Regions from separate parts of the Homo sapiens genome. Here region 2 is linked to region 1. Evidence: fine-mapped expression QTL. Tissue or cell type: nasal epithelium. Region 1 holds a variant in brackets; the other region holds the start of a gene. All regions are shown on one strand. Distances are from middle to middle.

Region 1 (8,109 bases):
TTTATTCTCTTTGAAGCAATTGTGAATGGGAGTTCACTCATGATTTGGCTCTCTGTTTGTCTGTTATTGGTGTATAAGAATGCTTGTGATTTTTGCACATTTATTTTGTATCCTGAGACTTTGCTGAAGTTGCTTATGAGCTTAAGGAGATTTTGGGCTGAGACAATGGGGTTTTCTAGATATACAATGATGTCATCTGCAAACAGGGACAATTTGACTTCCTCTTTTCCTAACTGAATACCCTTTATTTCCTTCTACTGCCTGATTGCCCTGGCCAGAACTTCCAACACTATGTTGAATAGGAGTGGTGAGAGAGGACATCCCTGTCTTGTGCCAGTTTTCAAAGGGAACGCTTCCAGTTTTTGCCCATTCAGTATGATATTGGCTGTGGTTTTGTCATAGATAGCCCTTATTATTTTGAGATACGTCCCATCAATACCTAATTTATTGAGAGTTTTTAGCATGAAGGGTTGTTGAATTTTGTCAAAGGCCTTTTCTGCATCTATTGAGATAATCATGTGGGTTTTGTCTTTGGTTCTGTTTATATGCTAGTTTACATTTATTGATTTGCGTGTATTGAACCAGCCTTGCATCCCAGGGATGAAGTCCACTTGATCTTGGTGGACAAGCTTTTTGATGGGCTACTGGATTCAGTTTGCCAGTATTTTATTGATGATTTTTGCATCAATGTTCATCAAGGATATTGGTCTAAAATTCTCTTTTTTGGTTGTGTCTCTGCCAGTCTTTGGTATCAGGATGATGCTGGCCTCATAAAATGAGTTAGGGAGGATTCCCTCTTTTTCTGTTGTTTGGAATTGTTTCAGAAGGAATTAGTACGAGTTCCTCCTTATACCTCTGGTAGAATTTGGCTGTGAATCCATCTGGTCCTGGACTCTTTTTGGTTGGTAAGCTATTGATTATTGCCACAATTTCAGATCCTGTTATTGGTCTATTCAGAGATTCAACTTCTTCCTGGTTTAGTCTTGGGAGAGTGTATGTGTCGAGGAATTTATCCATTTCTTCTAGATTTTCTAGTTTATTTGCGTAGAGGTGTTTGTAGTATTCTCTGATGGTAGTTTGTATTTCTGTGGGATCGGTGATGATATCCCCTTTATCATTTTTTATTGCGTCTATTTGATTCTTCTCTCTTTTCTTCTTTATTAGTCTTGCTAGCGGTCTATCAATTTTGTTGATCCTTTCAAAAAACCAGCTCCTGGATTCATTAATTTTTTGAAGGGTTTTTTATGTCTCTATTTCCTTCAGTTGTGTTCTGATTTTAGTTATTTCTGCCTTCTGCTAGCTTTTGAATGTGTTTGCTCTTGCTTTTCTAGTTCTTTTAATTGTGATGTTAGTGTGTCAATTTTGGATCTTTCCTGCTTTCTCTTCTGGGCATTTAGGGCTATAAATTTCCCTCTACACACTGCTTTGAATGTGTCCTAGAGATTGTGGTATGTTGTGTCTTTGTTCTCGTTGGTTTCAAAGAGCATCTTTATTTCTGCCTTCATTTCGTTATGTACCCAGTAGTCATTCAGGAGCAGGTTGTTCAGTTTCCATGTAGTTGAGCAGTTTTGAGTGAGTTTCTTAATCCTGAGTTCTAGTTTGATTGCACTGTGGTTTGAGAGACAGTTTTTTATAATTTCTGTTCTTTTACATTTGCTGAGGAGAGCTTTACTTGCAACTATGTGGTCAATTTTGGAATAGGTGTGGTGTGGTGCTGAAAAAAATGTATATTCTGTTGATTTAGGGTGGAGAGTTCTGTAGATGTCTATTAGGTCCGCTTGGTGCAGAGCTGAGTTCAATTCCTGGGTATCCCTGTCAACTTTCCGTCTCATTGATCTGTCTAATGTTGACAGTGGGGTGTTAAAGTCTCCCATTGTTATTGTGTGGGAGTCTAAGTCTCTTTGTAGGTCACTCAGGACTTGCTTTATGAATCTGGGTGCTCCTGTATTGGGTGCATATATATTTAGGACAATTAGCTCTTCTTGTTGAATTGATCCCTTTACCATTATGTAATGGCCTTCTTTGTCTCTTTTGATCTTTGTTGGTTTAAAGTCTGTTTTATCAGAGACTAGGATTGCAACCCCTGCCTTTTTTTGTTTTCCATTTGCTTGGTAGATCTTCCTCCATCCTTTTATTTTGAGCCTATGTGTGTCTCTGCATGTGAGATGGGTTTCCTGAATACAGCACAATGATGGGTCTTGACTCTTTATCCTATTTGCCAGTCTGTGCCTTTTAATTGGAGCATTTAGTCCATTTACATTTAAAGTTAATATTGTTATGTGTGAATTTGATCCTGTCATTATGATGTTAGCTGGTGATTTTGCACATTAGTTGATGCAGTTTCTTCCTAGTCTCAATGGTCTTTACATTTTGGCATGATTTTGCAGCAGCTGGTACCGGTTGTGCCTTTCCATGTTTAGTGCTTCCTTCAGGAGCTCTTTTAGGGCAGGCCTGGTGGTGACAAAATCTCTCAGCATTTGCTTGTCTGTAAAGTATTTTATTTCTCCTTCACTTATGAAGCTTAGTTTGGCTGGATATGAAATTCTGGCTTGAAAATTCTTTTCTTTAAGAATGTTGAATATTGGCCCCCACTCTCTTCTGGCTTGTAGAGTTTCTGCTGAGAGATCAGCTGTTAGTCTGATGGGCTTCCCTTTGTGGGTAACCCGACCTTTCTCTCTGGCTGCCTTTAACATTTTTTCCTTCATTTCAACTTTGGTGAATCTGACAATTATGTGTCTTGGAGTTGCTCTTCTCGAGGAGTATCTTTGTGGCGTTCTCTGTATTTCCTGAATCTGAATGTTGGCCTGCCTTGCTAGATTGGGGAAGTTCTCCTGGATAATATCCTGCAGAGTGTTTTCCAACTTGGTTCCATTCTCCCCGTCAGTTTCAGGTACACCAATCAGACACAGATTTGGTCTTTTCACATAGTCCCATATTTCTTGGAGGCTTTGTTCGTTTCCTTTTATTCTTTTTTCTCTAAACTTCCCTTCTCACTTCATTTCATTCATTTCATCTTCCGTCACTGATACCCTTTCTTCCAGTTGATCGCATCAGCTCCTGAGGCTTCTGCATTCTTCACGTAGTTCTCGAGCCTTGGCTTTCAGCTCCATCAGCTCCTTTAAGCACTTCTCTGTATTGGTTATTCTAGTTATACATTCATCTAAATTTTTTTCCAAGTTTTCAGCTTCTTTGCCTTTGGTTTGAATTTCCTCCTGTAGCTCGGAGCAGTTTGATCATCTGAAGCCTTCTTCTCTGCACTCGTCAAAGTCATTCTCCGTCCAGCTTTGTTCCGTTGCTGGTGAGGAACTGCGTTCCTTTGGAGGAGGAGAGGCGCTCTGCTTTTTAGAGTTTCCAGTTTTTCTGCTCTGTTTTTTCACCATCTTTGTGGTTTTATCTACTTTTGGTCTTTGATGATGGTGATGTACAGATGGGTTTTTGGTGTGGATGTCCTTTCTGTTTGTTAGTTTTCCTTCTAACAGACAGGACCCTCAGCTGCAGGTCTGTTGGAGTTTGCTAGAGGTCCACTCCAGACCCTGTTTGCATAGTTAGCAGCAGCATTGTCTGCAGAACCGTGGATTTTCGTGATCCGCGAATGCTGCTGTCTGCTTGTTCCTCTGGAAGTTTTGTCTCAGAGTTGTACCCGGCTGTGTGAGGTGTCAGTCTGCCCCCACTGGGGGGTGCCTCTCAGGCTGCTCGGGGGTCAGGGGTCAGGGGCCCACTTGAGGAGGCAGTCTGCCCGTTCTCAGATCTCCAGCTGCGTGCTGGGAGAACCACTGCTCTCCTCAAAGCTGTCAGACAGGGACATTTAAGTCTGCAGAGGTTACTGCTGTCTTTTTGTTTGTCTGTGTCCTGCCCCCAGAGGTGGAGCCTACAGAGGCAGGCAGGCCTCCTTGAGCTGTGGTGGGC[T/C]GCACCCAGTTTGAGCTTCCTGGCTGCTTTGTTTACCTAATCAAGCCTGGGCAATGGCGGGTGCCCCTCCCCCAGCCTCGCTGCTGCCTTGCAGTTTGATCTCAGACTGCTGTGCTAGCAATCAGCGAGACTGAGCCAAGATGGCCAAATAGGAACAGCTCCGGTCTACAGCTCCCAGCATGAGCGACGCAGAAGATGGGTGATTTCTGCATTTCCATCTGAGGTACTGGGTTCATCTCACTAGGGAGTGCCAGACAGTGGGCACAGGTCAGTGGGTGCAGTGCACCTTGCATGAGCCGAAGCAGGGCGAGGCATTGCCTCACTGGGGAAGCTCAAGGGGTCAGGGAGTTCCCTTTCCTAGTCAAAGAAAGGGGTGACAGACAACACCTGGAAAATCGGGTCACTCCCACCCCAATACTGTGCTTTTCCGACGGGCTTAAAAAACGGTGCACCAGGAGATTATATCCCACACCTGGCTCGGAGGGTCCTATGCCCAGGGAGTCTCGCTGATTGCTAGCAGTTGTTTTTAAGACAAGATTTGTTAGTACAATGTTCCTTAGGAGTGATTCTAACGTAGTTTATTAGAACTGATTATATTATTGTTGTAGGAAAAAACCGGGTTCTTATCAGAGGACCAGGATAATTTAGACACGTGGACATATTGTAGGGTGAGTAGGGCAGGGTTTATTGGGTGCAAAGGAAAAAAGGGAAACAGGAACCCTCAGCAAAGCAAGAGAGTCCTGTTAGCTGGTTTACCCCCTCACAGATTGAATCCCAGGTTACCACACAGGAAGAGGAGAGCCAGCCTGCTCCCCCCTACAAAGGCGGGAACTTCCCGAGGCTCCACCCCATTCTCCCAGTGCACAGGCCGGTTGGGTATTCTCCAGGGACCCCTTTTTACTTGGCTGCCTCATTATTACATTAAAATTAGCAGCATGATATCTGTGATATTGGTGAGCTGATACTAGTTTTGCATCCTAGTAGAAACAATCACACCTAAAAACATTCCTATAGATTGCATTAATTGTCAATCATTAATACATATAGATAATATTAGGAGAGTTACTCAGTTATATTCTGTAATATTTCCCTGTAGCTTCTGTTGCAGTCACTTGCATCCAGCTGGTATTTAATAAAAGTGAACTCATTCATGACTCACCTCCTTTTCTAATTAAGTTCTTAGTCTTATACTACCTTGGTCTACCTTTCTAATTATTGTATAACCCATGACATATAATAGGGCCATGTCTCTGAGCCTGACCAATATTTTGGCCTTTCATGATTAACAGCCTTAACTAATTTTTATCTTATATAGCTAATTTGATTTCATCATTGGAGCCACAAATACCACAGGGAAGCCATGATGATTCAATTACTTTTTTCAGCTGATAGTTTTAACCATTTCCCTGGATTCTCAAGTTAAGTTAATCTCTCAGATGGTTCACCTGGTGCTTCAGAAATCAATTCTTAAAAGTGAATTTTATCATACAATAGAATTTTTCTCTCATCACAGACAATATCTCAAAGTTTCTGTCTGAAACATAAAATATAAGATTTTCTTCACAAGAAAAAATGAGGCTAAAACAAAATTAGTTTTATAGCAGAAAACTACAAGTTAGGTGGTATCTAGCAATTGTGATACTTTATTATATTAGGTCATCTCTCCAGGGCAGAACATCTTTTCCAATTATACTCAAACTGCATCATTGTCAATTATATCACATCAACTAGTTGTAGCAACAGGGAAGAAGTTTGTACTGATCTTTATACTCTTAAATAACTATGCTGAGTAATTTTAAGAGCAGGGTTTATTGACAAAAATCATAGGCCGAATTACAAGGCAGTACAAAATCTCCATCAATGTTTAGGCAACTAGGCAAAATCCAATTACAGGATATTTGATATAGATAAGTGCCAGCTACTAAAATGAGAAAAAAAATGTAGAAAAGAATAAAAAAAGAAAATAGGATTAAGATAGGAGGTATAAGAAAGATAAATGAGAGAAAATTAATGAGGAAAGTTAAATGAGATAAATTAGATAAAGTCCTGCCTTTGGATAGTGATGCACAAGTAGCAATTACCCTCTGTAGCACTAGGGTGGATTTCTATGTTCATTAAAGGGGTTACACCAGTGTTTTTGGCAAATCTGTAATGAAGGATAGTGCATTGTGAGACTAACTGGATTGTAATGAAATATACAATTAAGTGAAAATAGTGAAAGTAAATGCAAGGATATGAAAGGAACATTTGCTATATTCTTTATGTACATATCCTTCTGAATTACTCTGGAAAAAAGAGGATAAAAAATTATATTCTACTCCAAAGTAATTGCCAATAAATACTGTCAAGAGGCAACTCATAGCTGCGCATGGTGGCACATGCCTGTAGTCCTAGCTATTCAAGAGACTGAGGCAGGAGGATCACTAGAGTCCAGGAATTCAAGGCTGCAGTGAGCTATGATAGCACCACTGCACTCCAGCCTTGGCAACAGAGTGAGACGCCTTCTCTAAAAAGTAAATAAATAAATAAAAATATTTTTAAAAAAGTAACTCATAAAACAAGACATAGAAAATGCTTTATAATTATGTGTTGCACTAAGTTAGAAATAATAAATTGTATTTTAGATCAAATGAAGGTTGGTTTCATGAAATAGCATTCGTCTATACATAATGGCGTTAATATATCAAAAACCCTTAATCTAGTGAATAATATGTTGCATTAAGTAAACAAGTCTAGTTTGCAAGTTCAATATGATGGAACAATGTTTTATATCAGTTAATATGAGAAGTTTGAGAGGCTGAGGCAGGCAGATAGCTTGAGCCCAGGAGTTTGAGACCAACATGGTGAAACTCTCTCTACAAAAAATACAACAAATTAGCCAGGCATGGTGATGCATGCCTGTAGTTCCAGCTACCCAAGAGGCTGAAGTGGAAGGATTACCTGAACCAGTGCAGTTGAGGCTGCAGTGATCCAAGGCCACTGCCTTCCAGCCGGGGTGGCAGAGTGAGATCCTGTCTCAAAAAAACCAAAAAAAAAAAAAAAAGAAAAGAAGAAGAAATCATGTGGGAAGTATATTTTGTAATATCCTAATAAATAAATCTTTGAGGATTACTGCTATTTTATTTATTTATTTATCTATTTATTCATTCGTTTATTTTGAGATGAAGTCTTGCGCTGTCACCCAGGCTGGAGTGAAGTGGTGCGATCTTGGCTCACTGCAACCTCTGCCTCCTGGGTTCAAGTGATTCTCTTGCCTCAAGCCTCCCTAGTAGCTGGGATTACAGGCGTCTGCCACCATGCCTGGCTAATTTTGTATTTTTAGTAGAGATGGGGTTTTGCCACGTTGGCCCACTGGTCTCAAACTGCTGACCTCAGGTGATCCACCCACCTCGGCCTCCCAAAGTGCTGATATTACAGGCCTGAGCCACCGCGCCCGACCCTACTGCTTATTATTTTAACAAGAAGAGATGATGATGTGACATAATCATCATAATAAAATGACAACATATAGTGAAAATTCAAGTATTGTGTACTTTCAAACAGTTGATCATTCCATTCCCATACAAGCCATGGAGTTTGCTACTACTAAGAAGCCTATTTTATATTTAAGTAAACTTAATTGTAATGGGTCATATCACTTGAAGATAGTCAAAGAGCATCCAAGTGACAGAGCCAGATGTTAGGTTCTGTGTTCTCATTCTCTATATGCTATTTATTTGCATGTAATCCATTACCTTTCATATGCTTTCATAAAATTATTAATTTTGGTGGCTAAAACATAAATGTTTCAACTTGATTTTTAACCAAACTAGGTATAATTTACATTTATACATACACATAAATGTAAGTAACTAAGTATAAATGAAGATTCCAAATTTTTATTATATTTTCAACATATAATACTGAAGTAGTGACTATTCCATATATACCATGTGAATACAGATAAACATGGTTAGCATTTAATAAGCATAAAATATAATTTTAGTTATGAAATTAAAAAGCTTCAGCATTGACATTTTTAAATACTATATTGGAAAGAATGCTTGCCGACGACAAATTTTCAGGAGAGTTTGATATGTGTAATACAGTGTCTTTCATTAGCTCATCAGCCATTGCTGAAGTCCTAGTATCCTGCTACTTTGACTTTTAGTAAATAGTGTTTATTTAGCTCTCCATTATAAATAATATGGGGAAAATATGTCA
Region 2 (8,093 bases), 540 kb before region 1:
GTAGCTGAAGTGATTGAGTGTTAGCAGTCTGTAACCCGGTTCACTCAGTGGCTGTGTGCCTACTGCATTGCATGAGTTGTTCTGAGAGATAAATGAGATAATAGATCTGAAACAACCTTGAAAACTACTTTAAAACAGTACGGGAAGGTGAGGCAGATGGAGGTGTGGAATGTGCAGCACATTTTCCCCATAGAAACAAGGCAATTCACAATACTTATGTCACCATATTAGTCAACAAAAGGTCTAACACCTTATATAGCAAAACAGTTTATGACCTTATTTCTAAGTGAAAATGCAATCAACATTCAAATTGGAGACATCTCTCTCCTTCACAAACGTCTGTGGAACTGTTGGGATTCTCTTTTTAGTCTCTTCTACTAAGACACTCAGTTCCAGGAATAATAGAAAACAGAATAGGAAGTGCATAGCCACATTAAGTTATAGAATTGCATCTATAACTAGGGTGCCCTTTCATAAGTCAGGCATTGCCTATACTGTATGTAAAGGATGTGATGCCAATTTAGAGATAAAATATGTGTGATTATTCTTCTAAATATTTTTGTCATCACTTTCGTATGGAATTCTAAAAGAATGACAGGGAAGTATATTGAAATAAAGGAGTGTGGTACAGTAGTTCGAAAAGCGAATTTTGGTGTCTTATAATCATGCCCTTCAAATTCTAATTCTGCCGCCAAGAACACGTGCACCCGTGATAAAAATATTTGATTTCTCTCTGAGTTTGTATATCTTTAGAATGTGCATTGTATCAACTCATGTGTTTCCTGTGAGGAATGAATGAGACGATGTAGGTTTAGTACATAAGGCAGTAGTTGCACATAGTGAAGTCTCAACATTGTTTGTAGTTCACACTTCTGAGAACACTGTGCCAATGACGTCAGATGAGGTATAAAAGCCCCTGGAGACTGCCTTAGGTTGGGATTCTCAAGAGGCAGGCTCTGACACAAGGATTTGAGTGGTTTATTTCAGAGGTGATCCCAGGAAGCAGTGGTATGAAAGCAGGGAGATGAGGCATGGAAGGGAAGGAAGCCAATTCAGAGCGCATGAATGAGCCAGTTACTACTGTGGACACCTAGGGCTCAATCTCGGTGGGGACCTTAATGGTGTAGACTAGAACATGTCTGACGGTTTCCCATATGAGGATTGAAGAAGCTGGGGTATTTATCCTCCAATTCCCATCCATTATTGCGTGAGGGTAGCTCTTAGGGCTGGAACCTTATTGTTCAGCCAAGCACCTCCAATGGCTAGAAAACAGACTGTCCCAAGTGATTACAAAAACGCAAGCATGGACTGAAAGGGCACAGTCCAAGAACTATGGTGGGGCACTGCTGGAGTCAGCTACAGATAGCATTCTGCTTTCCTATACAACCTAAAGATTACTCAGGCTATTGCTGGTTGCAGGGAAACCTCTGCAGGATTACGGAGGGATCCATATAAATGTGTTGTTCCTATGATTAATTTGAGGAGGTAATAGAATGCTTTTGACAGTATGGCAGCAGCTTCTTCAACAGTCAATTAACTTACAGCTTTCTGTTTGGCAATGCAAAATACCCATAGCCCTAGCAGGTACAGGACAGCTAACGTGTATAAAGACAGAAGAGCAACTAAGAGAAACATTTTCCACTAGATAACTGGCTTCAGTTTTACCAAAGGTTGTGGAACTATTACCTTCCAGGCTTTGCAGTGCCTAAGAGCACATATTGGGCTCTTGGGAATTTTATTAAACATTGAAAGACACTTTTCAGAAGAAAAGCCCCTTTACAAATGGGTCGATTAAAACCAGACATTCTCATTATAGCAATAAAATATCTGTGCTCCATAAATTTAACAAAGTTAATCCCTTTTTGGCTCCCTAGGACTGACGAAACGTTTCTGAAAATTCAGTGCCAGGCTCTGGAGAATAGTCTCTCTGCCCTATTCAATTTATTTGTATTTAGTCATTCTGATACGTCATAATGTTTATTCAAAGGAAGCAATCATTCGGGATCCTTATTTGTGGTTCCCAGCATAACTTTATCCTGTATAAATGCCATTTTTCTCAGTAGGCGCCAAGTTCCAGTTGCTACAGAGAGCTCTCTGCTTGATGTGGCTTCGTCATCTTAATCTCTTAAGAAGGGTGCTAGGGAGCTGTTTGCTATTTAGCTCCCTAAACCATCCTCTTATCAATCGCGACACTTCACCCCAATGAGTCAGTTCCTCAGTGGATCTCAACAAATAATCTTCACTTCCTGGAAAAGTTAGGATTGCTTTCCTTAGCTGCCAGGGCTAAAAAGGAAACTTGGTCCTAAATATCCACGCCCCAGGGGCAGCCACTTGGGCCAGCATGTTGCGCCCTTCAGCTTTCCGCCCGCAGGTGGCAGCAGCGGGCTCCGAAGCCTGTCTCTGCAGGTAGCAGCCGCTTCACAGCTTTCAGGCCGGTGCTCAGCGGAGGCTGGTGCATCTCCACTAGGAATCCACACCCAGCTGGGACTGCTGTGAAGCTGAAGTAACTGAGTATTAAACTAGTCTCCGACTCTTTAGTATTTTAAGTGAAAACAAACAACAGTTTGAAGCAGCAACAGCAACTCATTGCATCCCTATTCCCTCCGGTTGCTAATTTTTCCCAACTCCAGCAGCAACTCGGTCCCCTTCCCCAAGCAGGGTCGGCTCCGTAGCTCTCCGCGCTCCGACCCTTCAGATCCTCGGGAGCCCAGGGGAGCCAGGTGCTGGGCGGTGCGTCCGGTGCCGCCGCGCCCCTTCTCGCCACCTCTGGCCTCTCCGCCACTCGGGCTTTCCGGCCGCTCTGGATGCCTCGGTTGCACCCCTGTTCCATGACCCCAGCTTCCTTCCCTAACCCTCCTCTTGGTCCCTTCTCCCCCGAGCGCGCGCGCACACACACACTCGGTTCGCTCCCGCGGAGTGGCTCTGGGAGCACGACCGACTTCAGCTCAGCAAACCGCGGTCATGCCGCCCAGACTCCTCGCCCCGAGGCCCCGGTCCCCGCCGCCGCCGCTTTCGCGCCGCTCCTTTCCGCCTAGACACCGCCGCCTGCGGCCGCCTGGGCGGCAGCCCCTGCGGTCCTCAAAGTTGGCCCCCTGGGAGGGGGCGGCAGGGAGCAGGATGAAGGATTTGTTGTAGGAGGAGGATTCACACATCTGGGCGAAGGGAGGGGCAGCGCCGCTGCTGGGACGCGGCGCGGACCCGCATCATTGCGCGCAGCAGCCGCTGCAGCAGCCGCCGGGGACCGCGGAGCCGGGACGCCCCCGCTCGGCCCGCGCCCCGCTCCCCGCCCCACCCCCGCCCGCCGGGCCCAGCAACGCAGGGTGCCTAGGAGCCGCGGGCTGCGCAGGGAGGCGGGCAGCGGCCCTCGCGCGCTTCTGCCGCCCCCGGAGCCGGCGCGCGGCGAGCGCAGGGCGAGCGCGCGTCGGGCGGCGGCCGCGCTGGGGGGCGTGAGGCGAGCGGCGCGGAGAGCGGCAGGGGCGAAACTTCGCGGGCCAGATGCCCGAGGGCGCGGCGGCGCTGCCAGGCTGCCGCTGCTGCCCCTGCGGGCCCCGAGCGCGCCTCCGCAGGCGGCACTGCCCGCGGCGCGGCGTGTGCACCGAGCGAGTGAAGGTATGTGTGGCGGGCGCGGCTGGAGCTGCCGCCGCCGCCGCCGCCGCGCCAGCAGGTCCTAATGCCTGTCACTTCCCAGGACGCTGGCAGCAGCAGCAGCCCGGAGCCCCCGAGCCCTCGGCAGGTTTGCGTGTCCTTCCCCGCGATCTGATTGGATAAAGTGGGGGCTCGACGGTGGCCGACGTGGGACAGTCTGGCTGTGGCAGGGGTCTCGGAAACCATGGGTTATTGCAGTGGCAGGTGCACGCTTATCTTTATCTGTGGCATGCAACTGGTAAGTGACACTTGGGTCCCCTTATTCTGTAATGTGTCTTTGAGATAGTGGGCAGGGGAGTGCAGCAAAGGGTCTGCCATTGACTAGAATGGACGAAAAAGATAAAAGAGAAGGTGACAGATATATTGCCTATATTGAAGATGATTTCAGGGAGACGCACTCTGGGGTACAGGAGAGGTGAGCCTTTCCGTTCCCACCTATTTCTGTCCCTTTTAAGACAGTTTGGCAGGTGCGGGTTAAACTTGTCTTTAATTTCTTTAGGAAAAGCAAGATGTAGCTCTTGTTCTTTATGCTTTGCATTCCTATTCATGTAACAACGTGATTGTCACCTACAATTTACCGTACAGGTTGTTAAACAGAGGAATACGGAATTTTGGACTTTTCTTCTCTATACTAATTTTGCAGTATCTTTGTTTCTTCATAGACATGTTTTTTTTCTTTTTTTAAGGAAAATGTTGTCTTTAAGTATAATGCTCTAAAAAAACCACTGTTTAGGGCACATGGTATCCTTACAACAGTCTAATTTAGACTGTTTGAGTTTTAGCCACATTGAGTTTTTAAAGTATGCAGATTGAACAAAAATACTTAGGTGAACTCAGCAACACCATTGTCATAGACGGAACCAGTAACCTTTAAATCACAATTAACACAGACAATTCCAAGAAAAACTATTCTGTCTTACATTATGCATATTATTGCTCCTGAAATAGATACTGTTGTCTGATCCTATAGGATGGAGAATTCTATGTACTTTTTGAGGAATGTTGTACAGTTGCAAAGGGGCAAGGAACCAATAATGGAAAACGTCATGTCTCTGAATTTCAATTCCCTAAGGGCAATGGAAGGAGGGTCTGAGTAGAGAGTTGAGAGGTGAAAAATACACCACTCTAAGTGGTTAATTTGAGGTAGGAGCTACTTGCTCACACTTGTCATTAAATATATTTCCTTAGAAAGTATAAATTAACTGGAATAGTCATGTCCGTTTTCAACAACTGTTTCATAAAGGTTGAAGTGACTACAAGGCAGAAGATGTTTAAGTGTCCAATCAGTAAAGTGTTCAAAAGAGCAAGGATTTGCCATTGAAACTGGCAGAGGAATTCCTTAAGTGTTCTTGTTTATCAGTTGTCGTGAAGCCCATGAGTGTTAGTTATTGCTGCTTTGTTTAATATTTAGCTGAAACAGTGCTTTTTGTTGTGTGTTGTCTTAGGATGTTTTTCTTTCCCCTGAAAGTTATCTGATGGTGTCTATTTTGATCTGTGATTTATGCGCTTATGCACTTGGTTGTAAGACAAAGATGGAACTATAAATGTAATTTTCAGAATGTGGTAGTTTCTCAATGATGTGTAAACCAGTTTATTTTTCTGTACCACAGATTCATATAAGTTTTGCAATGAAGGATTTTTACTCTTAATAATAAAGCTAACCAAAACAATGAGGGAGTTTACTTTGTTAAACAACCCATTAGGCTAAGTCTGCCAAACTGTATAAAGGTTTTCAAAACATTCTTATTTTTATATATTATTCAGAAAAAGAATACATTTGCTGATTCACTGTGTGAAAGCATAAAAATGTGAGAATGAGTGGGTGTGTAGATCATTCTTATGCTCTTTTCGATTTAAAATTTGAAAAATGTGATTTAACTTCTAATCATGTAATATAATAGGGCTTTCTTATGGCAAATGTATGCACTAGGTCTGTATGACATTTTGTGTGATGAATACAAACTCCTCAAGAACTTAATTTTAGAAAAACATAAATATACCAGTAGGGAAGCTATCTATTCAAAGTAGAATGATAAAGCTAAAGGTTCCTTTGTGTTTTTATGTGCTCACATATGTGTGTATGTACATATGCTCTTGAGTACATGCATGCATCCATACATACAATGGTGTCTTGGAGAGTTGCACCATCACTTATGAAACAGAAATTCTGAATTATAATTAAGTTCTCTAACAGAATAGACGTAGCTGTAATACAGAAGAGCACAATCTAAGTAAGTGTACATTGGAATCCTAAGGAGTTTTTATATTATATGAGAATCATGTGATTTTTCCCATTCAGACTTTATGTGCCACCAGGCTAATATAATTAGCAGCCATGTTAACGCAGATGCAGAACAAAAAACAAAGGACAAAGAAAATGCAATTGTTTTGATAGGGTGAAATGATCACACCTCAAAGGACCTCAGAGATTCTTGGTAATTGTTGCTTTTTGGAAATACGGTATTTGATTTTAAATAAAATAATTCTTTTGCAAATTAATAGTTGCAAAGCCCTGCACTAAAAAATAGGTGGGTGTGTATGTTTTCCTTTTGCTCTCAATAGATTTTTAAAAACTTTTTATGTCTTTGCGCTATTATGAGTAGATTGTTTTACAAATAAACCAGGTTTCTAGACTAAGTTATGACTCATGTACCATTGACTGAAATAAAAGTTAACCCAGTTTTGTTTACTTCTCAAGTGTTTAGTATGTGTTCTTGTAACATTTGGGCATCTTTTTTTTGGTAACTGTACAGGAAAAAAGGCCAAAGAGACTCTAAGTTAGAAACTTTATTCAGTTGCTTTATTATGTGACTTGATTAAGGTTCTGGAAACATTAATCTCCAGTCCTCGGAGCAAAGTATTTGTATTTTAAATAAATTTAAGGGAATATTTACATCTGTACCAATTTGCAGCTAATCTTAGGAGAGGATGAGGTGGCTTTTGGTATTGTGGATATGGTGATCTCATTTATTAAGTTATTATCAGACCAGACACGGTGTTTTGACCATTTAACAATTGAGGGACAGAGGCAGATTCTTCAGAGACATTTACCTGTCAGAATTCTATATCTGTGCTTTAAATTAGTTAAATATACATTTAATTTAATGTTTGGCAGACTACAAGTATTGATAAACATATACTCTTCTCAAAAATCAGGAGATCCGTTTATAAAACAAGAAACTAGAATTCCATACCATAGAGATTCATACAAAACTTCCATTTTATGAAAAACTGTTTCCATATATATCATAAATTAAAATCTTTGAGTTGTATGGTTATGCCAACTTCAGATTTTAGGGTGATTCCTACGTAAAGGAGTATGATCTCTGGAAACAGATTTATTCCATGTGCAGAATCCAGAGCTTAAGCTCATAATCTCAAGAAGGTAATTTTCTTTTTATCATTGCTGTCCTTAATACTCAGAAACTGAAGATTTCAGATAGTAACAAAAATCATCACTGCATTTGCAATGGTGGATGTAGTGGTATAGGACAAGAAGTTTTTAACTTCTTATTTACTATTTGTAACTTTCAACTTGTGAAAGTTTTGGCATGTTTTCCCCAATGTTTGATTGAATCAGAGTTCTTTTATAAATGTGGAAAAAATTACTCTGATATCTCTCAGTGTGAAAAAATACGTTAAAATATGAAAGAATATAACTTAATTTAGACTGAAAGGACAGATTTGTTTTCAAGTAAGGAAACTCAAAATCCCCTATTTTGTACTTTAGACTTCTGGGTGGCACAAAACATGTCATAAACTATTGAAAGAAAGTTTAGATTTACACTCCACAGAATAACACTTGAAAAATGCCACTATTGCCATGGGCTGTATGAAATATTGTTAACTTGGAGCAGGTGCAACTAACAATTAGGTTAGTACACATTGTGTGTGCAGCTGTGTGAAGGAGTACATTTGAAACTTAATTAAGAATGATCAGTTACTTTCTATCACAGGATTGCTAACCATTTTCAAAGGTACATATTTTTTTTCCTTAAGATGTTGTGAGTGTAGACTAAATTAAAAACAATTTTATTATAATTATGGAATATTTCAGTGATCATGATTTTATGCAGTGTTCATAATCATGTGCTATTTTATTACTTTTTAGAAAATAAAGCGTTGCTGTGAAGTAGCTTGAAAAGTGCAGGTAGAATCTTATGATATTCCTGGTATACTTCTGACAAGTTTGACGGTTTTTCAGAAGTTTATAACTTTATCTGCCACAAAACTTCCTGGCTCAGAGAATTTTAACTTTTTAGGATTCAGATGCCATTGATGATAAAATCTTGAAGTTGTTAACCAAACTTACTCATGAAGAAGACTGAAAATCCCCATACAATACTTTAGAAACTTATCATGTAAAAATATGTTGAGTTTGCTAAGTTGTAAAATGATAACTTTCTTCTTTTTAAATGTTTTCTATTTATGCATCCTGAATATTGTTG

Evidence for each region. PIP is the estimated chance that this variant, and not a neighbour inherited with it, causes the effect.
Region 2: NKAIN2 starts here. The variant in region 1 is fine-mapped to the expression of NKAIN2 in nasal epithelium (TOPMed, PIP 0.94).

Annotation. Positions count from the first base shown.
Region 1 is chr6:124,344,576-124,352,684 of GRCh38, forward strand. The region is part of intron 2 of NKAIN2 (sodium/potassium transporting ATPase interacting 2); the gene reads left to right. Among named protein-coding and RNA genes, the nearest start is that of NKAIN2, 540 kb to the left of the region's middle. RefSeq lists an enhancer at 3,896-4,395. The variant T/C (reference allele first, on the strand shown) is at 3,907.
Region 2 is chr6:123,800,372-123,808,464 of GRCh38, forward strand. NKAIN2 (sodium/potassium transporting ATPase interacting 2) reads left to right here and starts at 3,494. Exons shown (of 7, transcript NM_001040214.3): 1 at 3,494-3,883. The coding sequence starts at 3,830. RefSeq lists an enhancer at 2,250-2,299.